Linked DNA regions of Homo sapiens. The protein of the gene in region 2 interacts with the protein of the main gene of each other region in a pairwise test. Each region holds a gene or a part of one and is shown on either strand. Other genes may lie near its edges. The genes, in order: SLC9A9, OPRM1, ADD3, SCGB1D1, SERP2, DOK5 and GRM1.

The links.
Region 1: the proteins of OPRM1 (region 2) and SLC9A9 interact in a two-hybrid assay, tested with the Homo sapiens proteins (one large-scale study listed by BioGRID and IntAct).
Region 3: the proteins of OPRM1 (region 2) and ADD3 interact in a two-hybrid assay, tested with the Homo sapiens proteins (one large-scale study listed by BioGRID and IntAct).
Region 4: the proteins of OPRM1 (region 2) and SCGB1D1 interact in binary tests that used the Homo sapiens proteins (3 or more experiments, as listed by UniProt).
Region 5: the proteins of OPRM1 (region 2) and SERP2 interact in binary tests that used the Homo sapiens proteins (3 or more experiments, as listed by UniProt).
Region 6: the proteins of OPRM1 (region 2) and DOK5 interact in a two-hybrid assay, tested with the Homo sapiens proteins (one study listed by BioGRID and IntAct).
Region 7: the proteins of OPRM1 (region 2) and GRM1 interact in a two-hybrid assay, tested with the Homo sapiens proteins (one large-scale study listed by BioGRID and IntAct).

Annotation. Positions count from the first base shown.
Region 1 is NC_000003.12:143,841,801-143,846,126, forward strand, and holds part of SLC9A9 (sodium/hydrogen exchanger 9), read right to left. Parts: intron 1-4,326. UniProt on the Homo sapiens protein: Endosomal Na(+), K(+)/H(+) antiporter. Mediates the electroneutral exchange of endosomal luminal H(+) for a cytosolic Na(+) or K(+).
Region 2 is NC_000006.12:154,045,110-154,049,435, reverse strand, and holds part of OPRM1 (mu-type opioid receptor), read right to left. Parts: intron 1-4,326. UniProt on the Homo sapiens protein: Receptor for endogenous opioids such as beta-endorphin and endomorphin. Receptor for natural and synthetic opioids including morphine, heroin, DAMGO, fentanyl, etorphine, buprenorphin and methadone.
Region 3 is NC_000010.11:110,010,796-110,015,121, reverse strand, and holds part of ADD3 (gamma-adducin), read right to left. Parts: intron 1-4,326. UniProt on the Homo sapiens protein: Membrane-cytoskeleton-associated protein that promotes the assembly of the spectrin-actin network. Plays a role in actin filament capping. Binds to calmodulin.
Region 4 is NC_000011.10:62,188,417-62,193,303, reverse strand, and holds the start of SCGB1D1 (secretoglobin family 1D member 1 precursor), read right to left. Parts: upstream 3,089-4,887; 5' UTR 3,020-3,088; coding exon 2,965-3,019; intron 1,249-2,964; coding exon 1,061-1,248; intron 1-1,060. UniProt on the Homo sapiens protein: May bind androgens and other steroids, may also bind estramustine, a chemotherapeutic agent used for prostate cancer. May be under transcriptional regulation of steroid hormones.
Region 5 is NC_000013.11:44,379,724-44,384,049, forward strand, and holds part of SERP2 (stress-associated endoplasmic reticulum protein 2), read left to right. Parts: intron 1-4,326. UniProt on the Homo sapiens protein: Interacts with target proteins during their translocation into the lumen of the endoplasmic reticulum. Protects unfolded target proteins against degradation during ER stress. May facilitate glycosylation of target proteins after termination of ER stress.
Region 6 is NC_000020.11:54,586,755-54,591,080, reverse strand, and holds part of DOK5 (docking protein 5), read right to left. Parts: intron 2,599-4,326; coding exon 2,484-2,598; intron 2,395-2,483; coding exon 2,275-2,394; intron 1-2,274.
Region 7 is NC_000006.12:146,395,580-146,399,905, forward strand, and holds part of GRM1 (metabotropic glutamate receptor 1 isoform alpha precursor), read left to right. Parts: intron 1-3,189; coding exon 3,190-4,120; intron 4,121-4,326. UniProt on the Homo sapiens protein: G-protein coupled receptor for glutamate. Ligand binding causes a conformation change that triggers signaling via guanine nucleotide-binding proteins (G proteins) and modulates the activity of down-stream effectors.

The DNA.
Region 1 (4,326 bases), on a different chromosome or scaffold from region 2:
TGGAGTGCAGTGGTGCAATCTCGGCTCACTGCAACCTCCGCATCCTGAGTTCAAGCAATTCTCCTGCCTCGGCCTCCCGAGTAGCTCGGATTACAGGCATCCGCCACTATACCTGGCTAATTTTTGTATTTTTTAGTAAAGACAGAGTTTCATCATGTTGGTCAGGCTGCTCTCGAACTCCTGACCTCAGGTGATCCACTTGCCTCGGCCTCCCAAAGTGCTGGGATTACAGGAGTGAGCCATCATGCCTGGCCCGGCTATTTTCTTAAAATCAACTTTTAAAAACATACAGAGTGCAGGCCGGGCGCGGTGGCTCACGCCTGTAATCCCAGCACTTTGGGAGGCTGAGGCAGGCAGATCACGAGGTCAGGAGATCAAGACCATCCTGGCTAACACAGTGAAACCCCATCTCTACTAAAAACACAAAAAAGTTAGCCAGGCGTGGTGGTGGGCGCCTGTAGTCCCAACTACTCAGGAGGCTGAGGCAGGAGAATGGCGTGAACCTGGGAGGCGGAGGTGGCAGTGAGCCGAGATTGTGCCACTGTACTCTAGCCTGGGTGACAGAGCGAGACTCCGTCTCAAAAAAGCAAACAAACAAACAAAAACCCCCAAAAACATAAAAAAACATACAGAGTGCAGTATGACTTTCATTCTTCCATTATTTTCCCTGTCTCTGGCAAATGTATTAACACATGGAAAACATTGTACAACTCTCTGAAGTTCCTTAAAAATCAAGTTTTTTACACCAAAAGGGAGAAGAAGTTTAGTATGCTGGGCTCCTAACCGTGATTACCTTTCCTGCAGATCCCTTAAAATTAAACCAGAGCTACTCTTGTTTTCATAAAAAATGCTTCTGCAAACTGTGGAATACATAGCCAGTCCTCACTATTAACTTGTTCTCCTCACCTTTCTGACAGGAATTCAACAGAATTTACTGAGCACTCCTTGCAAAATCAGAGCAGAAGCAGGAAGTACTAACAGTGCTGAAATAACACTAACTAAAATCTTGTCTGAGAGAACAGACTGGATATCATTATAGGCTGCCATGTTCTGGAAGGAAAGCTTCTGGTTTGGGCTGGAGTGGCTGAAAGATGCCTGATGGTTGAACTCAGTCTTGGCCTGAATTTTGAAGGACTTTTGCAGCTGGAAGGGAGACATGTGATATCTGTTCCTTTCTTCCCCATTTTATAGATGAGAAAAATAAGGCCAGATGTAACATCACTTGCCCAAAATAATGCATCTAGCTACTGAAAAAAAAATCATCAAGATTAAGAAACTTAAATCTCCAGGGGAGCACATCAATATTTTCTCTATAAAAAAAGCCACAGTGGAATAAGTAGAGCCTTGGAAGGACCTTCAGCCAGCGGGAAGGGGGTGAAGTAGTAGGAAGCATCTCCCATAGGCCTGGCAGTCAGGGAGGCTGGGCTGTCCTGGAGGAGGGTAAAATGGATCAGGAGGGTGTAGCCAACATGTCCAACAACCCAATTTAATCCTGAGGAACCTGCAGGGAGTGCTAGGAAGAAATTAATGCCTGCAGAAGATTTTTCAGAAAAGATAATTTTTCAATCCTTGATGATTCACTATGTAACTGTATTTTCTTTAAATCTTGAAAAACTTGGTGTTGAGTGAATTAAATTTGTCCTACTTAACTGTTAAGCACATTCTTAAAGAATCTGAAAACGCTTTAATATGATATAGTTTAATGAATTCAAAATGTAAACTTAGTGCCTTGAAATTTGTTATGTGCCCACTAAACAGTGGCCACAATTTTTACATGAATTCAGACTAACTTCTATGGGAAGGCCAGGAAGTCAAAGGCAGAATTCTAAGAGGTTTAAATTGCTCTGTCCCTAAGCTCAGATCCCAGCCCTCAAATGCACAGGATTATAAATGTCCTGTAAAGTATGGCAGCCCCCAGTGATATATAATGGAATTCTTAATGCTGTCAGGGAGCAAGGAGCAAATTTCTTTTATGAGCACTGAACAGGGGATACAGGCCCTAAGTGAGTGGTACTAAGTGCACCAGCTGCTGTCAATCAATACTTTAACCGCTAATTGTCATTTATGCTTCCAGTCCAATTTAAATGAGTATCATTATGGCTTATATTTTAAACCAGTTATGGATTCTAATCCTTCAATTTTGAAATGAGAACCATCGAATATCATAATAGATTACCCATTACTGTTCCTGGTGAAGCAAAAATATGGTTATAAAGCTGCCACTAATTTTTATAAGCTTCCTATGACCCTTAATAATAAGAAAAACCTATTTTTTATATAATGGATTATTTATACTATTTGGAGTATCATATGAATCTCTGATTGACACAGAGTCTAGCCAAATGCCACACAATTTTTCTTGGTCTCTACAAGTGTTCATATGATATTTTAAGATTAGCAACTTGAAAATTATTTCTAACAAGAAATATAAAAGAACATTAAACATTCTGCTTGATCACTTTTCTCTGCATTTTTTAAACTGCTTGTTTTCTAAGCCCCTGTTCTCTAGAATTTTTAAATTGGACTCTCAGGTACATTGATAAAATAGACTCAACATCTATCGAGTCTTCTAAAGAACATTTGACACATGTCAAAGGAATACTGGCAGAAAAGCAGATGGCAGAATAGGCTGAAGTATTATAGGAAATTTGATGCTGGGGAAAAACATTTATCATTCTTGATACAGGACAAGTAATACATTATACAAATAGTGAGAGCAAGAACAGTACTCGGTGGAGTAGGGGAGTTGCTAGCCAAATTCATTGATAAGCATTAGGTGCAGGTCCACTAAATCTTAAAATATATTTCATTACAAGCATATGTGTCTGTAGCACGGAGATGACTGTTACAGTCTACTCTCAAATGTTCACTTCCTTAAGAACAAGAAATTTTAAAAGTTTAACTTTCTTTCTCTTTCTTTCTTTCTTTCTTTCTTTCTTTCTTTCTTTCTTTCTTTCTTTCTTTCTTTCTTTCTTTCTTTCTTTCTTTCTGACACAGTCTCACTCTGTCACCTAGGCTCGAGTGAAGGCTGGAGTGAAGTGGCACAATCATAGCTCAAAAAGCTTAAGTTTTAAACATAGTTTTGTTTCTTTTCTTCCCCATTAGTTATCACCATGCCCCCCTGCTCTTGCAAAAGCTAAGAGTTTAATCCTTTAATGGAAAGGGGGATAGTACAATGTGGGATGCTGAAAATTCACTCTTTTAGACCTCCTGGAAAAGAGAATCTGGCTAATCCTGAAAGCTTAACCATATGAGGATGCATCTAGATCCCACAGACACATCCTTTCTCCAGGAAAATTATTGCAATAATTTACTTATTTTTAAATATCTTAGCATCTCTTATTAAAGAGATGGAGGTTGAATCCCACCTCAACAGCTAACTAATTACACGACTTTTATCTCTCTAAGTCTTCATTTGTTTGTCTGCAAAATGAGAATGCTGGATTTATGATCTTTAAGGCTCCTTCCCCATCTATGATTCCAAGTTCATTTATAGCTGTTGGACAATTAATTCACTTGGCATCTCCTTTCCCCTATCATTAAAAAGTGTTTACTACAGTATCCCATCATGTTCCTCTGGTGTAGTTTCAGACTATTTTATTACATTACTGATAGAAAGTTCCTAATAAGCATTTAAGATATAACATTTAGGACATCCCTGAAGAAGAAATGTGACAAGTCATGAATGCCACCCATATGGAGTACTTTCAGAAAACACAGGGAGAGTTCTTTCAGGTGAACGTGAACCTTAGTAAGACATGCAGATGAGTGAAAGCACATGGACCAGTCATGAGTGGCTATTCAGTTTTGGAAAGTCCCTTCACTTCTCTGGGATTCAGCTTCTGCCTCTCTAAAATAAAGGGGATAGAGAAGATAACCTCTAAAATTCTTTGACATCCTAACAATTATGATTCTATGCCAAGAAAAAGTTAAACATCACTAAAATATGTCTTTTCATTGATCTATATAGTTCAAGATAACTGAAAGATACTCAAAATTTCTAGTAAGAGAATACATATATATGCATATCTCCATAATTTTTATAATCCTTTTACATTGCACTGGTTCAGAATTTGCTTTCAATAACTTTTACTTTAAAAAACTCATGAAAGAAGAATAGGAATCAGAGAACCCAACTTAATTCCACTCATAAACTTTAAGCCTTTATCTGCCTTAAGAACAGCAATTTAGAGAAATGCTACCTCAATAGCAGTGGTCAATGAACTACTATTTTATTATTTCAAGCACAATTTAAAAATATTTCAGAGAGTTTTGCAGGATTAAAGGTAACCTGGAATTTTTCAGATTCAAAAGTAAGAGTTACTG
Region 2 (4,326 bases):
TTGAGTTGCTCTCTGTGCAGGTTCCCAGGTAAGGTCAAACAAGGCAATGCTCTGCTGTCTTCTTTCAGCTTGTACTATAAACACGTGTCCTTTTCACAATCTATTTATTGCCACATTTTTCACATTTCTGTGTTTTTTTGTTGTTGTTGTTGGTGGTGGTGGTGACTTCACTGTTTAAAATGGTCTCAAACATAGTGTGGAAGTTCTGCTTAGTGTCCCTAAGCCAAGAAGACTGTGATGTGGCTTATGAGGAAAGTACTTGTGTTACAGAAGCTTTGTTCAGGCATGATTTATAGTGCTGTTAACCATGAGTTCAACGTTAGTGAATCAGCTATATATTAAATAAAGCGTCTTTAAACAGAAACACACATAAAACAAGGTTACGAATGCATTAGCTGATGAAAATTTTATAATCAGAGGCTCACAGGAACCTGCCCTATATATCCCCTAGAAGCAAAGCTTCAGTACTCACGAATTCTGTAGTCATAATGACTTTATGGACCATAACTATCATGAATAATGGGAATTGACTATATTAACTTTTTATGTTTTTACTTCTTCAAATTTTACTTTCTGAGTTTTTATTATAAGAGTAACCATATATTCCCTTTTTAAAGTTTGTAAACTCAGGAATATATGCATATATAGACATGTATGTGTTTGTATTTGAATTTATGATTTGCTAATATGTATCTATGGTACAGATCACTTTTCATGACTCAAGTGATAAAAGCTAAATATGCATGAACAAAGTGAATTGAGAAAATTATTTAAATTAGATTTTATACTTGAATAATTTGAGGTACATCTGAATTGCTAATAGCTTAGAATTGTACAGTATTTTGAAGATATTCAGTTCTGTTGGTCAACTTTGAATGTTGGATTTCTCACCTAAACACAAAGAGATAGATATAGTTCAAGTCTTTAAGTTTTATCAAGTGACATTTTATAAGGCCATGAGAAAATGCATAATTTTTTTTTAACAATGGTAGCATGTATTTTGGGTTATATTGCAGGGAAATTGGTTGTAGGAGTACTTTGGAGAGGCTGTAAGAAAGGATGGATTTAAGTTGATACTTGAAGAACAAGAAACATTTTGATAGGAAAAGAATGAGAGATACGTTACAGGAAAACAGAGAGAAAGAAAAATAAAGGAAACAGTATAGAAGAGATAAACATGAAGCATATTGGAAGATAGTGAAGGAATCAGGTTGGCCTAATTTACGTAAACGTTAATTTAAATCACACTAATGGTTTTCAGTGAATATGAGTGGTTAATATTTGAATCACTTAGGACACCTACTGTAAACTGAATGTGTTCCCCTCAAATTCACATGTTGAAAACCTATTCCCCAGTGTGATGGTATTTGGAGGTGGGGCCTTTGGGAGGTGATTAGGTCATGAGAGCAGAGCCATTATGAACACTATTAATGCCCTTATGAAAGAGGCCCTAGAGAGCTTCCTTGCCTCTTTGCCTTGTGGAGAAATGGGGAGAAGTTAGTTGTCTCTGCAAGAAGGTCCTCAGCAAATGCAGAATCTGCTGGTGCTTTCATCATGAACTCCTCAAGCCTCCAGCACTGTAAGAGTAAATTTCTGTAGTTTGTAAGCCACCCAGGCTATGGTACTTTGTTATAGCAGCCTGAACACACGAAGACACCTACTTACATACAGTGCATAAGCTAACATATTATTTAAAACAAACAAAAAACAAACAAACAAAAATTGTACTTAACAACATTTTTGCCTGGACAGACACATATCCAGAACAGAATGATCTCTCTCTCATTTAAACCCATCACACACTTCATCTTATGGGAAAGCCCTATCCATTGGTTTACGAAAGTTCACTTGATTAGATTTGGTGGAACCTCTTTGCATCAGATTTGGAATACAACATCCAGGATAGGACTAATACCTAAAGGCAAATATTAAAACCATCTCCTAAAAATTAAACAGAGAATGAGAGACAGAGAGAGAGAGAGAGAGAGAGAGAGAGAATTTTGCCCACGCTCCACCTTTGCCAGTCACGCTTTTAGGTTATGCGTTCCTAACCCTTAAGGAGGCAGCACATACTCTGACTCACTGTTTTTCATTCCTTGTCTTTCCCCATCTTGCACCCAGGCCCTCAGGTACACAAAACAGCAGGACCTTTTGCTTGGGCCTCCCAGTGCAGTAAGAAGATGACTTTTCCCTCTCCTTCCTGCATTTCTGCTCAAACATGTGATGCTCACCTGGTGGCTTCTGTGGGGTGGGGGTGGGGGGAATGAAACATGATGGGGTTGCACCTTTTCCCACTTAACCACTTGCCTGTACTCTCGAAGCATATGAATAAAGGCTTGACTGTAACTTTCTGTTTCCCTTATTGTCCTAATCATAAACACCACACCTGGCAGTTCAGAGCACACTCACTCTTTCTCCCTTTGACAGAACCTATTTGAGCTTATATAGAATCCAAAGGGCTGTGATGGAATGGCAACCACGATTGTTTAGTTTTGTGGATGATTCCTCTTTTCCTCCAGATTGTATTGCTGGGAAAAACATGCTCTTAATAGTCATTGAAGTTGCCATAGGACATTTTAGTACTAGAAAGCGTTTAAGATTTTTTTAGTCCAATTCGCACCTTTTTACAGATAAGGAGAGTGAGGCGCAGAGTGCCTTGAAGTCGAGCCACAACTGACACTTGGGGCCCTGAGCCAGGGCAAGGTTTCTCTTCCTTGCTGTTCTTCCTTTCTAAATTTGTATCTGAGAAATTGATGGGGAAAGAAAAAAAGTTACCTGAGGCAAGAAAGGATGGGTAAAGAAAGGAGTTGCTTGGTAAGCTCAGTATATGATGCTTGTTGTATATGACGTTTCCTGCATTTGATGCTTCAGCTCACTTTTGAAGACTGAAATTTTCTTGAGCTCAATTAATCACAAGATACTCTTAACGTTACTATATAACATGAAATTAATGGAAAAGGGAGTGGCAGGATTTTTTGTTTGTTTGTTTTCTTATACCCTCAGATAATTTGCCAGAAGGCACAGGAGGCTTTATTTCCTTTACATGGCACACACAATTCTGCTCCTATTATCCTGAGCTCAAGAAGAAGTAAACTGAACACTGGACATGACTGGTGCCCACTCTCTCTCCATTCAGCCAAACCTACCCAAAAAAGCCTTTCCTAAATCCCAAGGCAGGAACAAAAATGGAAGGAAAAGCTTAGCTTCTGAACTCTCTTGGTAGTTCTAACTGGTGCTGCCTATCAGAATTTTTCTTACGAGTTTTTGATAGTTAAGAGAAAACCTTTATTGATAGGTCTGTAAGAGCTCTATTTATTAAACAGATTTTACTGTGCTAACGTATAGTCACCAATTATAAAATAACAGGAAGGATATTCAGCAGAGTGTGAGATACGACCTTGTGTGAAGGTGAACCATTTTGAAAAGTGGTTGCTTGGCAAGGAGTGGGAAACTAGAAGAGTAAACCAGGGAAGAGGAAAACGAGGCATGTTTTTGAGACGGTCACAATGTGGGCGGGGCCTTCTGATGTGCCTTGTAGTTGGCACCTCAGAATTGTACACCTCAGGAGAGAGGGGAGCAAGGGCAGCATTTTTCCACAGGCTTCCATTTCCTGGTCAAGGGAACTTTCCTGAACTTCCAAATAGTGCCTTTGTGAGTGCCAGGCTGATTCCTATGGAGGGCAATTACTCCAGTAGAGAAGCCCTAGGGCAGAAAGTAAGTGATTTAGATGCAGCCAAGGTGAAGTGTTACTCAGTTATGTCTGGAAACTGACTGCCATATCAACGGCTGAGGTAGAAGGCGAGGTGAAGGACATGAGGTGGGCACGAGAAGGATATGAAACAACGTGAAAGCCATTGCTTTCAAATTTTGCCTGGTGGAGCCCTAGAAATTCTATGGTGGTCCCTTGGGGACAGCACTGGTGGGTGGCATGGGGGTGCAAGGTGAGCAGTGCTCTTGGTCTCAACATGTGGTTACATCTGGACAGTTGTTCTGTGATCTGTTTTATATATTGGGTCCCAAGTTCTTGAAATAAGTGTCTACATCTAAAAACAAGTTTGAAGACTGCTGTCACAGATAATTATTTCAGTCAGATAAACATTAAACTTAGTGAGGACTAAAGACTTGGAATTCTTGTATTTTAAAATGACATGCACCATTTAGTCTTGGTATTTACCCCTAGTACTTTTTTTTTTAATTTATTTTTTTTGTTTGAGTCGGAGTCCCACTGTGTTGCACAGGCTGGAGTGCAGTGGTGCGATCTCGGCTCGCTGCAGCCTTTGCCTCTGGGTACAAGAAATTCTTGTGCCTCAGCCTCCCCAGTAGTTG
Region 3 (4,326 bases), on a different chromosome or scaffold from region 2:
AGATAGAATTCACCTTAAAAATTCTACCTTCCCATCCTGGCCAACATGGTGAAACCCCATCTCTACTAAAAATACAAAAAATTAGCCAGGCGTGGTGGCCCATGCCTGTAAACCCAGCTACTCGGGAAGCTGAGGCAGCAGAATCACTTGAACCAGGGAGTCGGAGGTTGCATTGAGCCGAGATCACGCCACTGCACTCCAGCCTGGCAACAGTGCGAGACTCCGTCTCAAAAAAAAAATTCTACCTTCCCTTAGGAAAGTGAACTCAACTCTGACAATAAAAACTGTAAAAGAAGGCTGGACGCGGTGGCTCACACCTGTAATCCCAGCACTTTGGGAGGCCGAGGCGGGTGGATCACCTGAGGTTGGGAGTTCGAGACCAGCCTGACCAACATGGAGAAACCCCATCTCTACTAAAAATACAAAATTAGCCGGGCGTGGTGGCGTATGCCTGTAATCCCAGATACTCAGGAAGGCTGAGGCAGGAGAATCCCTTGAGCCCAGGAGGTAGATGTTGCGGTGAGCTGAGAATTGCGCCATTGCACTCCAGCCTGGGCAACAAGAGTAAAAAACTCTGTCTCAAAAAAAATAAAAATAAAAAAACTGTAAAAGAAAGGCAAGGTAAGAGGTACACTGTTTTCACCTTTAAAAAGTTGGCTGTGGAAATAAGGAATACGAACAATGCATCAACTTCATTGCAAATCCCTTTCTACCTCCCATTTGTGCAGCTCAGGCAATGAAGCATTCCACTCATCCAAGGCACTTATGCCCAATCACAACTCCATTTGAGCTCTGACCATTGCCATTTTCCAACCACCTCCTTAGATATTAAAAGGCTGACCTTCTAGAATTTTTTTGTCATGTATTAAGACAAATGAGAACAGAAGTCACGATGCAGCTAACAGTTGCTCACTCTAACTTCCTAGGGCGTAAAAGTGGAGTGTTCTTAGAAGTCCCTGGGGAGGCCTTGACTTCCAAATTTACTTCCTTAGATATACCAAGTAAGCCTAACTATCTTCTTCAGGAGGATGAGTAAACCCAACTTTCTGCTCTAGCATTTAGTCATTCTAGCAAATCAAAAGATGATAGGATGAGAATATTGAATGGAAAAGGAAAACAGAAATGCTGTCCTTGCTCAGGATGAGCTGAGCCATTGTGGAAGAACTGCACAGAAACACTGCTAATGGTGACAAAGACATACACCGAGTTCCCATGACACTAAAAACTCAGCACTTCTCCAACCTGATTGCTTTTACATTGTTTGAGTTCCACCTCCTCTAGTAGGTAACCAACAAACCACCACAGAGGCAGAGTTAAACAGGCTGAGTCACTCACATCAGCACTCTCCTCTTTCATTCCATCTGAAAAGGTGAGCACTTCCTTTGGTGAGGGAGGGGAAAGTAAGAAATCACAAGAATAAATTTAAAGAGGTATGGAAGCTTAAAAAAATAATTTCGTGTATATTACTTGGAGTTAGGTTATCCTGCTTAATCCACTGCTTGCCTTAACGTATCTGTGATCACTGTTATTTTATTGTTTCACTAATATAGTATACTTCTTGAGACACTGGTTTTAAAGACATTATGTTACTGTCCTTAAATTTCTCAGAAGTGTTTTTACCTCCTAGCTGGTTGAGGGAAATGTTTATCCTATGGAAATTGCATATGCCCACTGCAGAAAAAATTGAGTTTCATAACCCTAGATTAAAACCTTAGCCTTGGCCGAGTGCAGTGGCTCACGCCTGTAACCCCAGCACTTTGGGTAGCCGAGCGGGGAGGAACACTTGAGGTCAGGAGTTCAAGACCAGCCTGGCCAACATGGCAAAACCCCATCTCTACTAAAAATACAAAAATGAGCCGGTAGTGGTGGCAGGCGCCTGTAATCCCAGCTATTCAGGAGGCTGAGGCAGAAGAATCGCTTGAACCCAGAAGGCAGAGGTTGCAGTGTGCCGAGGTCACACCACTGCCCTCCTGCCTGGATGACAGAGAGAGACTCCATCTCAAAACAAAACAAAACAAAAACCTAAAAATCCAAAAAAACCGTAGCCTTGTTTGAAGAGGTAGTCATCTTAAATGCCAGTTTATGTACCGTATACAAACCAATCTCCTCAGGCCCATTTTCATTGAAAGAAAAAAAAAAGTAAACATAACATATGGTGCTGATGCAGATCAGTCTGACTTCAAGTAAAGGCTCAATTTAGATCTAACCTTACCTTAAAGATATAAACCAGGCCTGTGGCTCATGCCTGTAGTCCCAGCTACCTGGGAGGCTGAGGTGGGAGGATGGCTTGAGCCCAGGAGTTCGAGACCAGCCTGGGCAACATAGTGAGAGCTGTCTCAAAAATACAAAAGAAGAAAAAAAAAAAAGATATAAACATATGCCAAGGCCTATACATCTTGTACAATAACGGTTCAGCTTTTAGTGGAGTTAAAACTAAGCAATATTATCTTCAAGAAACAAACTTACAAGAACAGTAAGCCTTTTAAAATCAAAGAGAGGTTTCATCCATTTTATACCTTTTGGTGATCATGCTACTACTATTTGGATTATGCTAGACAACTCTGAAAGCCACATTCATTCTTTAAGGTTTCTAGGATACTCTAAATGTATTCCTTCAATGCAGTTAAGTAATGTCCTAGAAGCCTGAAAGGAATTGTTAACGCAGCTTTTCAAACATACTCAACCAAAAACAGTTTAAGGAAACAAGGGGCTCTGATTCTCATTATCTGTGCTACCATCTAAGACTTTAAGTTAAACAGTACTTTCTTAACATTTAACATGTTTTCAACTGGCAATTCAATTTTGAACTTTGAGACTGGTCCAGATATTCAGCAACATTAAAATACACATGAAATAAATAAAAGATCCACAAACCTTTTTTCTCCAACACTTTTTTCCCACATAAAGGTATTACTCTATGCATACTGTTGGTACTCAATAAATATTACATTAATACACCAGGTGAATAATTTTTAACTTTACCTAAAAGGAAGAGAATCCCTCAAGTAGCATGGTTTGACATACGTATACATAGACACACACATCCATAATTAGCTACTGCAAGAATAAAAAATAATCATATTCATCTAAGGGATAACACACTTTTTCGTTCAAGCAACAGCCAATGAAAGACTTCTAACCTGTATGTTTTAGAGGATTCTTGATATATACAACCCATTACAGTAAAAAATTACAGTAAAAATTTGAGACTGTCTTGGCATTTGGCCAAGAGAACTGAATCTCTGGCAGAACCTGAAAGACCTCATAACAATCTCACCTATAAACACTCTGGCATGGACCCGGAGTTCAAACCATAGAGTATTAACAAAGAAGACATAAAGTATTAAGGCACTTATTTTGAATCTCAATGACATGACAGTCTAGGACTGTCCAATTAATTTTAAATTGGGTTTAAATAACTTCAAATAGGTCTACGTTTAAAAGGAAGAATAGCACTCGATTAGATATTTAAAGTTTTTTTAAAAATTCAAACTCTACATATTTAATATTTTCAAAGGAATCTGAAAAGCACTAATTATAACAAAAACAGTGTTTAGTGTGAGAAACAGATTAGTAACCTGTGTCTTCAATAAAGCTTGCACTTTCTCAATTCAACGCATGCTTGTTTTTAAACATTTTTTCCTAACATTACATTGCACTAAGTTGTCAAATGACATTTCATCTATCTACAATAATTCTAAACATTACTTAAAACAGCTCCTAATTTAGTTTATAATTTGTTTGACATATCAACTACAATGGTGAAGCAGCAACACACAGTTCCTTGAGGAATGTGAATGACAAAGTATAAGCCACAAGTTACATCTTTGCATTTAGGGTTCATTTTAGGAAGCAACTCAGGTGGTATTTAGAACAAACTTAAGTTAAAATTTATCTCAGGTTGATATGATGTTGGTAATCAGAAAGGTGATAAGGTTTACTGATTTACTGCAGAACTGGAATCTCCAATGGGAATTAGTGCCCTCTGGGCCACCTGGGGCCCTACATATCTGGTAAGCTTCAAAAAAAAAAAAAAAGACTTTAGTATCTTTAGTAATTAGAAAGATAGCACACTCTAGCACAAACTCTAGCACCCTAAACATATGTTGTGTATCAAAAGAGAATACCCTTTCAATGTCAAAAGGTGACTGTATTTAATGCGGATTAACCACCACTCCTTAGATTTAAGCATAACTTGGTGGTATTAATACCAGAGGATGTGGTTAAACAAGACATGTGCACCTGATAGTCGTGGGAATACTATGAAGACCTCTCACTGGTTTGCAGTAATTACCATGAGCTCAATAGCAACAAGGGGCAGTGGTT
Region 4 (4,887 bases), on a different chromosome or scaffold from region 2:
CAAAGACAATTGAAGGGTAGAGGCAGGAACCCAGTGTGTGTGGGAAACCAGGGCCTAGACCTAGACCAGCCTTTCCTTGCCAGGCCAATAGCCCTGGGGGGACACAAGCATAAGGCCCAGGGTCCTCATAGAGGGGGGACAGAGCAGAGCAGCAAGAGGTTATTGTCTGGGCTGTCCCAGGACTTGGAGTCTCCTGTTCCCCGCAATGAAAGACCCAGTGCTGAGAGGTTGGTCAGGGCTGGGAGGGCCTCTGGGAAGCTTGGCTTCCAGGAGACTCCAGCCTCCCCATGTGGGAATTCTGCCTCAGGGCCTGAGCACCTCAATCCTGAGCCTGCAGCTTCCATGAGCATTTGCAGCTAAACCTCAGGACAGCAACCCAGAGGCAGCCAGGCTGAGAGGCCCCTGGAAAACCTCTGATTTCTTGAGAAAGACAGAGTGAGAACATCCCGCTTCCATGGCACTGCAGGAGGTAGAGTAGCGAGGGTCTTGGCCCACTGGCCGTGGTCAGGAGAGCATCGTGGGTGAGGAGGGGAGCGTGGAGTCTGAGGAGCTGGGAGGGGCTCCTTCCTGGTTCTGCAGAAGCTGCAGAGAAGTCCAGCCCTCCAGCGCAGCATCTGCAGGAGCCCCTGCTCTAGGTCCCTCCCTGCCTTCTTCTCCCTGTTCAAGGCTCCCACACTCCCCAGTACATTCCACAGTGACTGTGTGAGGTCCACTTGGCCTCAGGAAAGTCCCCAGGTGGAGAGACAGTTGTGCTTGGCCCTTCACCACCCCTGCCTGGACCCAGGCTCACTCCCCATGTCCTCAGCACACTCTGGGGACACGGCATCCAGGTAGGTGACCTGAGAAGGAGGAACATGCAGGAGGCTGTGTGCAGCTGAGTTGAATTCTGCAGGTGAAATGGTAGCACCCACCCTGTGGTCCCAGGTGACCTTCTCAAGCGGTGACCAGTAAGGCAGGTGCCCCACCACCTGTGTCCCTCACAGAGCAGCAAGCAAGCTGACCTCACTTCACACTGTGCCGCTGACCAGAAGCCTGGACACATGAAAGAGACAGAAATTACCAATGTTTTTGTAATTAGCACTCTTTTCTCATAGGCCATCGTATCCACGCATTTCTTCACTTCCATCTTGGCTGCAACAGCTTCCAGAGGTGCCTTAAATTTGGCAAGTTGGAACTTGAACACAGGTTTTCCAGCTAATAAGAAGCCTGTGATTTCAGAACCAAGAGCTTGGCAGACCACTGCATTTGCTGGAGCAAAAGAATAAAAATATAATTTGTGTAAGGAAATCAGTGTTTCTCCCATGCCTCCCTGATGTCAGACCAGACAGGAACCCCAGGGTTTTAGGCTTCTATTCAATAACTATGCCAATGACAATGTCAGACCCAGGAGGTTGTGACTTCCTTGAGGTCACACAGCAAAGGGTAGAGCTAGAACTGGAGAACCAACTTCCTGATCACTCATTCAGTCTTTGTTTTTTTTTTAAAGCACACTCATTACTTTCCAAAGCTTCTCTGGATGGATGGCCAACGTTCTCTTTTCTAGATTTGAAAATAATCACTTTTCTATGCCAGTTAAGTGACACTTTATTAGTCTTGGACATTGGTGAAGAGGAGGCTTTGAGTAATCAAATTTTGAAGTGGAATGGTAGAGTCAGAATCCTATCAGAAATTAGAGAAATGAGTAAATCTGGAACAGAAGAAGTTAAAATTATTGAAATGTTGAAGGTGATGTTTTGAGAACAAGTTGTAGAATTTAGGCTTATGTGATTCAATACAGACAGAGCTAAAAGGTAAACAAATTAAAACAAAATAAAATAATGTGAATCAGTTTTAACACACATTAGAAGCTTATACAGGAAATTGTACTTGGCCCATATTCTGCAGCAGCATCTAGAATATTTGGAGAGGATGAGAGGAGGGAACTGAGGCTCATTCCTGCTCCCACTGGGAATTTTGGAAAGACCTGGAGTAATCATTTTGCTTGGTCTGGAATCTCCATTCACCTAAGTCTTTTGCAAACACCATGCATCCAGAAAGCGCCCCACCATGCTCAACATGACCCCTGACTACCCGACTTCAAACTGTGGGGAGAATTTGGAGAGGGTAGGATCGGGGTGTCACAGGGAAACAGGGAGAGGTTCAGAAAAGAAGAGGAAAGAGAAAAATCAGAGTCTGGATCGGTCCTGACAGGGGAAAGGAAAGTACCCAAATGAACTGGGGAAAAATCAGCCAGAATTAATTTTAGAAAAATAGAAGTTCTGAGGCTAACCATTGTAGTATTTCTACCACCATTACGGTAGGACCCCTAGAAGATATATTGAGTGCTGCTTATTCTAAGAATTCATTTGCAGGCTTCTTATTGAGAGAATCAGAAAGCACCATCTCTTCTTGGACTGAGAGTTCTCCAAGGATCCTTCGAGATGTAACATTTTATGAGTCTGAATTTACAATGTAAGAAGCTGTGAGCTCAATTGGCACCTAAAGGTCTGGGGACGAGAATGTCTGACAGTACAGTGATTGGCTTCACATCCACAGCTAGACCCTTGGCACAATAATCCCACTCCATTCCCATTGCCACTCCCGGAAGAAGCTCTAAGCACCAGAGATAGGAGGAGGCGCGGGGAGGGTGAGCATCTTGCCCACGGTGAAAGGGCTGAGAAGTGGCTGAGCCCAGAGTCACCCCAGACCTCACATTACATCATCTGACACAGATCCCATCCAAGAGTGAAGCTCAGGCAGAATTCCTAACGTTCGCCTGCATTGATTTTCTGCAAAACTTCCTAGGTACTGGGGATTTGATGAAATGAGGCCCGAGCTTTATGAGCAGTTCCTTCAACAAGCACAGGATAAGGTTTGGAATTTTGGTTTGTTCCAGACCCCAACCTTAACCTTAATAGGTGACCTCGTGCTCAGAGAAGGGTGTGTCCCAAGGGCTGGTGCTGGACTCATGACTGATGTACTCACCCCGGTAGCAGCAAAGGGCCAGCGTGAGCAGCAGGAGACACACCGACAGCCTCATGGTGGCTTATTCTGCTGTGAGCTCGGCTTTAACCAATGATGAGTGATTTAGACTCAGCCCCGGGAGCCTGTGGAGCCGTGGAGCCCAGGGCTATTTGTACCTAGGGAGCCTGGCTGGTCCTGCCCACATGGGCATCTGGCAGGTGATGAGGCCTGGCTTCCAGCCCTCCCTTCCTAGCCAGGGCTGCTGCCATCCATCAGTGTCACATCCCCACACCTCCCTGCATCCTGAGTGGGGCGGAGCACGGGAGGGCAGCCCTGCAGAAACTCTGCTCTGTGCTCCAGGTGAGTGTCCAGGTGCCTCTGGCAATGTTCCCTGGAACCTCAGTTTGCTTTTGGGCTTTTGAGGATTATCTCTCTGTTCTTTATGTCAGTGCAAGGGCAAATGTGAGTTCTCATTTCAGGAGGACAGAAACCGGGGGTGCAGGAAGCTAGGGGCTGTGGTTTGGTTATAGGAGAGCAGGCACAGAAGAGACCCCACTTTGACCTCCACTGCATGTCTGACAATCAGCCACACGTGTTTCAGCTGCACATAGATCAAGTCTGAACCAGACCTATCCTCCCACTCAGCCCCTTCCATCCCCACCATCTTCACCACATAGGTACCTAAAACATAGCTGCATACACCCCACCTTTGGAGGATTTCCTTGGGGAAAACAACCACTCCCCCTGTCCTCTACTCTGTCTCACTCCAAGATCTGTGTCTTTATTTATGGGTGGAGTTGTCAACATAGCACAGGTTCAAATTTTCTGTCTACTAAAAGCAAGCCTCCAGTGACCTCTAGCCACCCATATCTCCTCATAGGGCTGATGGGATGATTAAATTGCCCAACTTTTTTTACCCAAGGAGCTGCTGGGGTGTCTGGAGGCAAACAGGCATCAGAAATACTGGTCTTCGCTTCTAGGCAGGGACGATAATGGAAAGGAAGAGATGGATGAACAGGGTGGGTGGTCACTTCCCTCTAACCTCTGGGCTCAAGTTTTCCACTTCTAACCCAGCTCTGCTGCCTGGGTCATCTCATTGTTGATGGAAAGCGAAGGCCATCCCCAGCAAAAGCAATAGACACCCTTCTGCCCTTCCACTGCAGTGCCATCATTTGGTGAGTAGGAAATCACCAGAAATTTGGCTCTTAAGTGAACACACATTTGAGAACAGTCACAGCCCAGGCCAGAGCTTTCCATTCTCTGCTCTGCAATCAAATCACTTGGGGCTCTTAAACTATACTGACTCCCCGCAGGCTGCTTCCCTTTCTGGGGATTTTGATTCAGTAGTTCTAGGGCGAGGTCCTCTTCTGTTTAAACTGCTCTGGTGGGTCTGATGGGCAGCAGTACTGAGAACCACCCAGAAAGACCTTTATGAAGGAAGCGGACCTTATGGTCTGTGTCATCAGAGACACCTTGGCAGGTCTGGCTGAGTCCCAGCTGAGGGCGACAATGCCTCTCACTTCCATCACCCAAAATGGTGGGGAAGCCCCTGATGCCACCTCTGCCTCCAACCCTAAGGAGTGGAAGGTCCAGTGGCAAAGCCCATGGCTAGGAGGGTTCAGATCCATGTCTATGGGCTATTGAACCCTCTGAAAATTAGTTTATGTAAACACAGTTTTCTCGTTTGTAAAAGTAGGTTAAAAATGGTGCCTACATCATTGGGTTGATAGATGTTCAAATGAGTGTGTGTGTGTGTGTGTGTGTGTAAAATTTACCAGGTCTGGCCAGGCGCAGTGGCTCACACTTATAATCCCAGCACTTTGGGAGGCCGAGGCGGGTGGATCACCTGAGGTCAGGAGGTTGAGACCAGTCTGGCCAACATGGTGAAACCCCGTCTCTACTAAAAATACAAAAAATTAGCTGGGTGTGGTGGCATGTGCCTAT
Region 5 (4,326 bases), on a different chromosome or scaffold from region 2:
TTCACTGAACTTATATCCCATGTTCTCCACTGGCCTTTGAAAAACACACGTTTTCTTCACAAAGCAAATAGATGAAAAACATACTGGTATGGGATTCAAGTTTATCACTGCCTTAAGCCTTAATCTTAATGGGTTTTGATTTAGTTTCTATTCCAAATATAGGTAGAGACACAATTAATACACTATCAAATCCTAATCATAAAATGATTACACTGAGTAGTTAAAGTGGCTGTATACACTGTAGAGTTCAGTAAAGTCTTTTTGTGCAGACATAGCCTTAAAAGGGCATTAGAACAGAAGGTGAAACACCTGTGTGCCTGTGATAAATCCACATTCCGAGAAAGGGAGAGGCCTTATGCCTTATGAGAAAGTTCTGCAGAGCTCCTAGATACAACTTCCTAGATACAACTGAGCCTTTGACCCAAGCCTTAAGGTATGGGTCACCTGATACTGTAAGGTGGCAAGTTGAGAGCTTTACTTACACACATGCAGATACACACATACACACAAATGCAGGGAAGATGAGCAGAAGCATCGTGCCATTGTTTCTAGTTACATGCTGAACTAGCCTTGACATGGTTCCTGATCCCCATATGTTGGGTCTCAGAAATCCTTGTGAGTGGAGGTCACTTCTTCTAACTACACAGCATGCCTTGAGGGATTCCCACCCTCCAGCATCTCACTGTTACTGAGGGCAGGGAGGCAGAAGGTCCACATCTTCCTGCTCAGGCTTAGGCCTCCCAGCAAGACAGCCTCTGCCCCAATGACAAGAGAAGCCCATGACTAAAGATGAATCATGCATTCAAACCTAAAATCATGAAAATTAAAAAAAAAATTTAAGATGGATCAGTTCCTTTTATCTTCAAGAGACCACTCTTCCAAAGAAGCAAAAACTCTTAGGAGGAAGGAAGGATCCAAAGTACTTGGCATTATTGTTGCTTGTGGCTCAAATATTTTAAAGATGATTTGGCATTCCAAGATGAGAAAATCTTACACTCAAAGAAAGACAGTTCTACTCTATTCCCAAAGAAGTATCTTTAAGGACATCTTTTAAACAGCTGTTTACCCAATCCCTATTTGAATACTTCTTCAAAAAGCCTATTCCATGTCTGCTGGAATTCTATTAGAAATGTCTCTCCTGTTTTGAATTACACTATGCTGTCTTCTCAGTTGTTCAGATTTGAACTCCTAGGGTAACACAGAATGGACTCGTTCTCCTCTAAGCACCTTGAATCATCAGATATTTTAAAGATGACTGCCTGGTGGCTCCTTCTGCAAACTAAGCTTCCCTAAATCTCTCGACCTTGCCTCATAAGATGTGGTTTCTAGACTCCTCTTCTGGATCTGCTCAATGACTTTCTTAAAGGGTAGCATTTGGCAGCGCATGCCTGTAATCCCAGCTACTTGGGAGACTGAGGCAGGAGAATCACTTGAACCCAGAAGGCAGAGGTTGCCATGAGCCAGAGATCGCGCCATTGCACTCCAGCCTGGGCAACAAGAGTGAAACTCCGTCTCAAAAAAAAAAAAAAAAAAAAAAGCCAGGCGCAGTGGCTCACGCCTGTAATCCCAGCACTTTGGGAGGCCGAGGTGGGGAGGATCACAAGGTCTGGAGTTCGAGACCATCCTGGCCAACATGGTGAAACCCTGTCTCTACTAAAAATACAAAAAATGAGCTGGACATGGTGGCACGCGCCTGTAGTCCCAGCTACTCAGGAGGCTGAGGCAGGAGAATCACTTGAACTGCAGAGGTGGAGCTTGCAGTGAGCCGAGATCGTGCCACTGTACTCCTTCCTGGGCAACTGAGCGAGACTGCGTCTCAAAAAAAAAGTATAGCATTTGCAACTGCAGAAGGTGGTCTAGAAGCAGTGTGACCACCACAGAGGCAGTAGGATTGTCACTGCCCTTGATTTTGCTCACCACTCTGCCTCTATTAATGTGACCCAGGCTTGCAGTTACTTTTTAACAGTTGCAGCACATCCTTGACTCACGTCTAGCTGATGGCCAGCCAGATGCCACCCAGCTCTTCCTCAGATAAACTTCCTGCAACCCCGGAAACACATCTACATACCCCTTTATCCCAAGTCTCTCCTGTCTCCATCACATATTATTTTATTTTACTCATGACCCTCATCAGCAGTTGCAGTTATTTAGTTTACTTACTTAGGTTCATTTCCCTCCAGTAGGATATAAGCTCAGGGGAGACAGTGTTTATTTTTCATTAAATTTGTAGATCCTAGTTTAGTATTTAGCACATAGTTAGTGCTTAGGATGGATGGATGGATGGATGGATGGATGGATGGATGGATGGATGGATAAAGCCAGATATTCCTCATACTGTAGATATCTAGTTGACCTTTTTTGAGACCTAATATAAAACTTTATGACTTTTTTTTTTATTCTCAAAGAAGAACGATTACTTCTATTAAAATTTTAGGCTGGGCGCGGTGGCTCACGCCTGTAATCCCAGCATTTGGGAGGCCGAGGCGGGCGGATCATGAGGTCAGGAGATAAGACCATCCTGGCTAACACGATGAAGCCCCGTCTCTACTAAAAATACAAAAAAATTAGCCGGACCTGGTGGCAGGTGCCTGTAGTCCCAGCTACTTAGGAGGCTGAGGCAGGAGAATGGCGTGAACCAGGGAGGTGGAGCTTGCAGTGAGCCGAGATTGTGCCACTGCACTCCAGCCTGGGCGACAGAGCGAGACTCCGTCTCAAAAAAAAAAAAAAAAAAAAAAGAACAAAATAAAAACAAACAAAACTATGCCTTTATCATACCACAGGAAAATCAAGAAAATAAACCTGTACAAAAAAGTTAGCTATGTTTTCAGGCTGTATGACCAGTCTGTAGATTGTCAGACCTTGAACTTTAAGCCTCTGATCTACTTACCCTTTTTTCCCAGTGTTATGGTCCCTGAAAATATATTATTCTTCCAAGTCACTGATAAAAGTCTAGACTTGGAGAAACCCACAGAACACAATCAGAGACAACCTCTTTCAGGTTGACTTTGAGCCTCTAAGCAAAACTCATTCAAGCAATCATCATGTCTTGAGGGTCCCCTCTGTGCCTGGCACTGTGCCGGGCTTTGGAAATACAATCCTGTTTGGGTACTTGCAGGCATTGGGAGAGGCAGATAAGGAAGCTGTCAGTTGCAGCCCAGGGAAAGCGCACTGCGATAGTGACAGCAGAGTTTACAGGGTGCTTGGCTGGCATGGATAAGGAACTTCTAAATCATACTCAGCAGAAGAGAAAGTTTCCAAGGGGAGGTGCTGTTTGAGCGGAGTCTTGAAGAACAAACAGCCAGACAAAGGGTGTGAGGAAGGTGATTCTGCATGGGAACACTATGTGGCGGTGGCATGGTGGCTTCAGAGAATGTGCTGGGCTCAAGAATATAAGGTGCTCAGAATGGCCAAAGCCTACTCTCAGGCATCCCTGAGCCCCGTGACCATGCCACCTGTATTGTCAAGGGTCTAAGTAGATAAAGATATATATAGGCTTCAAGATACACAGTAACTGTGGCCTTCTCCAGTCTGCCCCCTTAGGCAGCCTATAAGGGAAAAAGCCAGTAGAGTCATTTGGCGTGGCTTATTTTTCTCAAACCCATGCCAACTCTCAAAACCCATCTCTTCCTTTTTGGAGGGTTTAAAAAACTATTATATGGCCTAAACTTTTGCCTGGCTTACCAGCCCATGCAGCAGGACCTGTATCTTTCCCTCTTGGGTAAATTGGGACATTTGCTAACAAGCATCTTTTAGAACTCTCCTGGTCTCCAGCAGTTTCCTAGGGATTGAGTATGTTAGCTCCACCTCTCTGGAGGTTTGCGTTTTTTTTGTTTTTTTTTTTTTGAGACAGAGTCTCGTTCTATTGACAGGCTGGAGTGCAGTGGCGCAATCTCGGCCCACGGCAACCTCCACCTCCCAGGTTCAAGCGATTCTCCTGCCTCAGCCTCCTGAGTAGCTGGAACTGCAAGCACGCACCACCATGCCCAGCTAATTTTTTTTTTTTTTTTTTAGTAGTGACGGGGTTTCACCATGTTGGCCAGAATGGTCTTGATCTCTTGACCTCATGATCCGCCCACCTTGGCCTCCCAAAGTGCTGGGATTACAGGCATGAGCCAATGCGCTCGGCCACCCAGGGCTCTTTCAATGATGCTGACTTAAAGCTTTCTAGTTATAAAGCCATTTTGCTTTTATGGAGAGGTTAGACATGAAATGAGAGTTGAGCCATCTTACTTTCTCTGTCTTCTATTAACATGCTATCGTGATCCCTAAGCAATGGGCCTCATCTCTTTTTTAATCATAACTAAAAATAATTCACCACCACCTTTT
Region 6 (4,326 bases), on a different chromosome or scaffold from region 2:
TTTGGGAAAATGCCAATGCATATATTTGAACTAGTTTCAACAAAGAACTTCCTTTAGCCAAATAGTGGAAAGAAATATTCATTGCATATTTGGATGATTGCTAAAATGCAACCAAAATTATTCTACATAAACTGCTTGGCTGATTAACCTAATTTTCATCCCTGCAGATACAGTCACCATATTTCTGTTATATTTCTGGAAAATTCATTAAGAAGTTTTTGAGTCAAAGTCTTTCAGTGAAAAATGAACAAAAATATTACTATAGCAAACATATTTCCACCTATGCATCATTATGGTAGATTGCCTACATACGACAATGTGGCATTAACAATTTTATATTAGTGGTATTCTAAATACATTGTTTTATGATAAGATAGTCATTTGAATTTTCATAGATTTTAGTTGAATTTAGTAAATAGTAATGCTGAGATAGTGTTCATGAAATGTGTTCCGCGATCTACTATTCAAAAATTTTTAATTATTTCATATTCTCAATAAACAAATATTTGTTGATTTCTAGTAATCATATTTAAAAATGTATTCTAATTGAGCATATTCCCCCCCCTTGAAAGTTCCAAGTAAGAAAGACTGTCTATATTAAGTAAAAAGTAAGAGAGATCATTATCAATCTATTTGCTTAGAAGTTCTCTGAGTCCTACCTCACTCAAGAATAACAATAGGGGAGAGATAGGGAAAAAATAATAATAAAAATTTAAAAAGAGTAATAGCAATAATGGTGGAGTGACCATTTTAATTACAATCATTTGAAGTCATACTAATTAACATTGGAAAGGGCCTGAGAGGACACAGTTGAATTTATAATAATCCCTGATACTTGTAGACCAGAGCTATTATTTCCATTTAACAGAAGAGGAAACTGAGGCACAGAAAGCTGCTGTGGGAAAGGTATCTCCTACGCACCGCCAATTTTTAAATTCAGATTGTGGTGCTGTCAGGATACTGCTTCCCCAAATACAAATTTGTGAAAAGTGCTGATCTGAGCACTCTAGGTGAAAAAATGAATCATAATCAAAACCTGCCAGGTTTTCTTTATGCTTGGCTCCTAGGTATCCTCTCTGCCTGGGGTGTCCTGATTTAGTGAACCAGAGAAGGAGGAGCCTGGGGATTGGTTGTGTAACCCCGTCAATGACTTAACCTCTCTGTAGCTCAATTTTCCAATCTACAAAGAGGCTCCTCTGAATTACCCAGGGCTTCTAGGTCTCGGTCAATAACATTTCCATGGAGATGGGTTATGGCAGATATGGTGCATCCAAAGAGTCACAGATTGTAAATGTGTCATGAAGACATAGTTCCAATTGGGAGGGACAGCATTTTTTTTACTAACATTGGAGTGTGCACCTACAGAAAAAGTCAGTACAATTCCATCTCTGCCATGTCCGTAATCAAACCAGATGACCCACAGACCTTTCCATGGTGACATGCCCTCATAGATCAAGTCAGCCTACAGCAGAACTCTGTGATCTGATCTACCCCGTCCCCAGGCTCAGCTGTTAGGAGACAAAGGAATGATTCCTCACATCCAGGTTTGTTCTGTAAATCAACACTGATTTTTGCTGAAGTGTTCATGAATATTTTAGTCATTATTATTTTAAATTATTGATTCCCAGATTGACTGCTGAGCTCAGAGTTGGCTCAAGTGTTTCAATAAAATATGTATTTTTTTAATTACAGATTTTAGATGGGTTTAAATTTGGTGAAATAGTCATAAAGTTTGAATTATATTGAAAACATTGGAAAGTTGTTGATAACATTTTAAGTGAAAAAGGCATGACCAAAAAATGCCCATGACATTTTAAAATCTGTAAACTGTAATATAGGTCCAACGGTATCGTCTAGAATCAAACACTAGTGAGCTAACAGAATTGAAGGAAAGTCTTTACGTCCTCTAAATTTTAGTTTCCTCATCTGCAAAACGTAGGAAGTAATTATACCTACACCATAGGGCTGCTATGAAAAGTACAATAAATAATCTGAGATGAGTTAAGCATCTTCCACCAAACTGGCACATAGCAGGTTCCCCAAAATTTCTAACTGATATTATTAATGTAGATACATTCATGTTATGAATTGGAAAAAGAATAAGAAAAAAATACACTGAAATGTTAACACAGGTTGTGGATTAGATAAAAGATTACTTATTTCTTTATACATTTTTATACCCCAAAAACTTTACATAATGAAGATGTCTTATGTTTTATCATATGGAGACAGAAGCAGTTTTGAAAGAGAGAGGAGAGAATTTTCTTTACATACCACTCTGTTCTCTCTCAACCCCAGTGGCCAGTAAGTCAGGCTCTCCAAGGCTGATGTCATTGATCCGTGTTCCTACACACTCCATCTGGAGTACTTTGCACCACTCATCAGCCTCAAGATCTGTGGAAATGTCAAAAAGATTAAACTGTGTGCCCAGCATCCATTCAGAATCTAAAAGCAAAAGCCCCCCAGCCCTGCCTGAGACAAACCTGATTCGCAAGCAAAAGTCTTGGAGGTATCGTCATTGAAATAAATCCCTATGGCATGTTTCTTGGTGCTTTTTGGCAATCGAGCTACGTTCTTCACATTATTGAGTTCTGTAACCTGAAAATGAACAATTAGAAGTTTGACACACTCCCTGAATGAATGTCTCCAGTATACAACACCAAAGGTGAGGCCCGGAAATCAGTATGGCACAGCACAGCTGAGCACAACCTGTTGAAAAAGTATCTACATCTGAAAGCTAAGATGTATTTAAGTGAGTTTAGTATTATCTGTAACACACCGCAAGGATGGTTAACAAATTATCTTTCCTTATTAAATTTTCTGAAACGTATTAAGTGGAACAAGCTTAAAACTTCACAGAGGTAGAACATTTTGGTTTTTCTTTTTTCTTTAGTTTTTCAAATCCTCCCAAAGACTCCACTTGACCAATAGTTCTTATGTCTGTTTCGGTCTCTGTGGACAGCCTTCTTTCTCAGCTGGCTGCAAAAGCCTCCAAATATTCCATCCCTTCAGAGTATTCCCCATGTAAGTGTCTTAAATACATCAACCCAAGGAAGGGAAGGGAAGGAAGAGTGGTCCAATTCATAACTAGATTATTTCACTCTTTACCAGTCAGAGATACAGCGTCAAGAGTCTCAGAAACGACCCCTGACTTGAGGTCCAAATCATAGAAAGTACATAATGAATTTGGTTTTCCAAATATTTTCCCACTGTCTCTAACTTACTCCTAGCTCCTCAGTGGTTACAGGGCCTCTGTTTTAGGCTCTGAGAACACTACCCAGTGGCGCCTTCTTCCTAGCAGGGAGGAAAGCCATCCCCACTAGACGTTCTCTCTCTCCTCCCTCTCTCCCATAATTCCTTGGCTCCTTTAACACTTTTGTAAACCCCTCCCTTCCCACAAAGTGTCTTGGCTCATTATATTTCCACAGTGGTCATCTCTCATCCAGTTACATCCGCATCCTCAGCTGCATTGGAGGTTTGGAATATTTGGGTCATGCCTGAGCGAAGCCTTAGGTGGCTTCAGGGTAAGTATTTACAAGATCAATAGCTTTTCACACTGACAAGTTTAACCTCCCTTTCATATATCTCTTTTGTGCTGTTATACAAAAGAATCCACTTTCCATCAATCTTTGCCTGCAATGATGTTGTTCCGTTTCTCTCGTCTGTTACTCTAAATTCAATAAATGCTTAGCTCAAGCAGTAGGTGGGAAGTGAAATAAATATCCTCCATGCACAACACTAATCTGATTATTTCATTTCTCTGCTTCTTAATCTCCATCAGCCCTTTTCATAGTATAAATGCAAATTTCTTAGCATGAAATGTCACACCACTTCTCCTCAAAAAGTGCCCAAACCGATCACGTCAGTGACTCAGCACCATGTATCTTATTCTCCAACTACACCAAGTGCCTCAGGACTCACCAGATACAACTGTTGATGTGTTTGTTTATTTTTATTTTTTGCCACTACCCCAATTCAAGCCACTATCATCTTGTCACAACTACTTATTGATCTTTCCACTTCCATTTTAATCCCCATTAATGCATGCTGCACATAGCAGATTTTTTTTTCAAAACATAAGTCTTGAAATATTACTGTGCATAAACAGAACACTTCAGTGACTTCCCATTGCACGTGGGACAAAAGCCTGCATCCTTAGAATGACCACCAAGACCCCCTGTGGTCTTGCCCACGCTATCTCACCACTGTCCTCTCTATACCTTTCCCATGTGCTCTATGTCTCAGCCACCGTGGACTTTGTTCAGTTCCCAGAAGACACTGTGGTTCTCCTGGCACAGGGCCTTCTCTATCTCTCCTTACCTCACT
Region 7 (4,326 bases), 7.6 Mb from region 2:
TACTTGTAGTATGGACAATAAGTATCTAATAAAATTTCCAAATTCTATAGCAAACATTATGTTCTGTATTCATGAAGTTTAGGAAAATTATTAACTATAGGTCTTAATTTGGCTTTATACCAGTTTCTTTAATTCAACTTCTATAGATCTGACTTGTGTTCTAGAAAGTTTAAAATGTTATACTATTTTCTGGTAAAATCTCTGATGACAGAGTATTTCATTTAGAGAGTCAGGTAAAGTTGCATAGAAAAAGAATGAAATGAAAAGAAGGTAGCATTCAGAAGGTTACCAAAGCCTTGACAAAAATCATCTTTGAATTGGAAAATTTGTTTGCAGGATGACAGCTAAAGAAACTGACAATTCACTGTGGTATTTTATCTCCTAATTTGTCTAGAGCTCCTTGTAAATATTTTAATTTATTGATTTCATCATAAATTAGTTCCCATATGGCCAATGTTATTTTAAATATCTATTTTCCTACCTATCCATCATCTATCTATCTATCTATCTATCTATCTATCTATCGTCTATATATATATATTTATCATCTATGTATCATCTGTCTTGCCTGCATTGGGAAAACAAAAATAAAATTAGGATTAGTATGTGACTTTATATAGGAAGAATAAGTTCTTCCAGAAAAAGGTTTGTATTTAGACAGAGACAAATCTCTGATACACAAGGAAGAGAGGCCACTAAGTTCTGTCAAAAGTGTGTGCTTGCCAATGGTGTCTTAGATTCCCAAAGCAAACGGAGTGTAGGAAGGCAACACACAATCACTAAAATAAAGTGATCTTTCATAAGTTGACAACACGGGAAGTATTCTTGTAAAGGTTTTCTAAGAAACCTAAGGCTGAGTGACCTACCACTTTTGGCAAATTGGTTATCAATTTAAAGGAGCTCCAAACATTAGCACTCAGGGCCAGCTTGGATTGGACACTTCTTAGGCTTACATGTTCCTCTAATGTTTATGAACTATCCCTTATATTGTCAACAGAAAAAGGTGATTCAAAACAAAACAAACACACAAACAAAACAGAAAAATATGGTTCAAAACGAAACAAACACACAAACAAAAAAGACCCATAAAATAAGACTTTGTGTATGTATGTAAATAACAGCAAAAGCAAAGAAACAGCAAGGGAATAAACAGATATGGAAAAAAATATTTATCAAATTGTGTATCTCTAAAGTGAACTATTTATTGACATAATAAAAAGCTTATGTCTAATTACCAAATGGTGCATTTCAAAACCAAAGGTTATATGACTTAATATATAAAGATACAGGTGAAATAACCTTACACAAAGACCTAAGTTTAAGTGCCTTCTATATAAAGACCTACATGATTACAAATCCTAGGACAACTACATAAATTCAGCAACAAGAGCTCAGTAAAATTAGCCAGAGTGAGAAAATTATTGAGAATGACTCTCATGCTAGTACATGGGAAGGACAGAATGCGGGCACGAGGGGGTCCAGTGAGTGACCCTGTTGATCAGAGCATCTCCTGGAATGTTATCAAATAAGGAGTCTTCAAAATTATCTTGGTGAAGCCTCTAGAAATATGAAACATGGTGAGACTAAATACATAAAATTTTTTTTAAAAAGCACAAAAGCTGGCTGGGTGTGGTGGCTCATGCCTGTAGTCCCAGCACTTTGGGAGGCCGAGGCAGGCTGATCAGGAGATCGAGAACATCCTGGCTAACACAGTGAAACCCCGTCTCTAGTAAAAATACAAAAAATTAGCCGGGCATGGTGGCGGGTGCCTGTAGCCCCAGCTACTCGGGAGACTGAGGCAGGAGAATGGCGTGAATCCAGGAGGCGGAGCTTGCAGTGAGCTGAGATTGCGCCACTGCACTCCAGCCTGGGCAACAGAGTGAGACCCCGTCTCAAAAAAAAAAGAAAAAAAAAAAAAAAAAAAAAGCACAAAAGCTAAACAAATTGCTTACTATAGTAAGGGATAGTTATGCTAGGCAGATACATTTTCTCTGAGCAGAAGACTATTCATTTTATATGGAGTTTTTAGAAAGTGTGGAGTTTAGGGATTGAAAACCTTGCAGCTTCTGAGAGCTGGTTGACATCACCTGTAGCAATACGATTACTCACATGAGACTGTTGATTAGTTGGCACTCATTTATTGAAGTGATTCTGATCCTGCCTGAGTGATTATCAGAAGTAAGGGCTGACAGTGCTTGCTTGGCATCCAAACACATGTTCACTGAGGCAAGTTGTTGATTGACTGACAGGTTTAGCACTGGTTCTGGTGGTTCCTTGTTGCCATGGCTACAGAACAATGAGTCTTTTCCTAAATTTATGGAAATGACTTTATTCTCACAATTTGGGAAATATTGGCCCAGACCAAATATTTTGTGATTACAAAATTCTGTGAAGGGGTTGTCCCAGAGCCTGACAAATTTTTCTCTCACTCTGAAATACAAAATACATTTTATTCTCCATCTAGAAGGAAAAGATAAGCCAGGAATTTAGGAACAAATTCTAGTCTTTCCTTTCAAGAGATGGGTTAGGGGAGATTTCATTCTTCCTGGATATGTCCACTAGAGGTTACTAACTCAAAGGCCCTCAGGTTTCAGATACAGATCATTCATGATTCATGAGAAGAGTGAGATTTAAGGTATAATATAGAGTTATGCAGGAAACAGGAGAATGCAGATTCTTCTAAAGAAGTCCATGAAATTTACATTGAAAACACTCTGCTGGCCAAAAACGACTTGTCTATGAGCTGGACTTGCCTACAGACAATGGCTGCATCAAAAGAAAAGTTTTGTTAGTTTATTTCTTAATAATTTATTCTATCCCATTATCACCATTTAACCCTCACTGGAAATAAAGTTTTATTTGGGTGTTTTCTTTTTCTGAACATGTAGAACCGAGTCCCATTCACAGAATGACATCTATTTATAATGCTGATGTTGGAAGAAAAGATCATTTTTATAGGTTCAAGTATGTCACATTAGGCTTGTAATAAGATTAAGTTTGGGGACATAATTGTCCAGGTAAGACAATGATGTATCTTTATTTGTGTAATAGTGTGCATTTTTAAAAAAGCATTAAATGCTGTAAATCATGAAGGATGCAAAGATGACTGTGTCTCTGGTAATTAATAGGCAAGTTGTTATTCCTAGCAGAAACCTTGGATTCATGCTCAAATGATTTTTCTCATCACAGGCTGTGAGCCCATTCCTGTGCGCTATCTTGAGTGGAGCAACATCGAATCCATTATAGCCATCGCCTTTTCATGCCTGGGAATCCTTGTTACCTTGTTTGTCACCCTAATCTTTGTACTGTACCGGGACACACCAGTGGTCAAATCCTCCAGTCGGGAGCTCTGCTACATCATCCTAGCTGGCATCTTCCTTGGTTATGTGTGCCCATTCACTCTCATTGCCAAACCTACTACCACCTCCTGCTACCTCCAGCGCCTCTTGGTTGGCCTCTCCTCTGCGATGTGCTACTCTGCTTTAGTGACTAAAACCAATCGTATTGCACGCATCCTGGCTGGCAGCAAGAAGAAGATCTGCACCCGGAAGCCCAGGTTCATGAGTGCCTGGGCTCAGGTGATCATTGCCTCAATTCTGATTAGTGTGCAACTAACCCTGGTGGTAACCCTGATCATCATGGAACCCCCTATGCCCATTCTGTCCTACCCAAGTATCAAGGAAGTCTACCTTATCTGCAATACCAGCAACCTGGGTGTGGTGGCCCCTTTGGGCTACAATGGACTCCTCATCATGAGCTGTACCTACTATGCCTTCAAGACCCGCAACGTGCCCGCCAACTTCAACGAGGCCAAATATATCGCGTTCACCATGTACACCACCTGTATCATCTGGCTAGCTTTTGTGCCCATTTACTTTGGGAGCAACTACAAGATCATCACAACTTGCTTTGCAGTGAGTCTCAGTGTAACAGTGGCTCTGGGGTGCATGTTCACTCCCAAGATGTACATCATTATTGCCAAGCCTGAGAGGAATGTCCGCAGTGCCTTCACCACCTCTGATGTTGTCCGCATGCATGTTGGCGATGGCAAGCTGCCCTGCCGCTCCAACACTTTCCTCAACATCTTCCGAAGAAAGAAGGCAGGGGCAGGGAATGCCAAGTGAGTTATCTGACCTGTTTGTCTCTCTTTTCTCTTCCTTTCTCTGTCTCTTTCTCTCTCTCTCTCTCTCTCTCTTTCTCTGTCTCTCATATCTTCCTCTAGTTTTCTGAGTTGTCTCTTCCATTTCCCCCATGTCTTTCTCTTCCTTTCTTAATCTTTTCTCCCTTTCTTAAATCTCACATTCTGTTGCAGTAAGAATGCAGAAC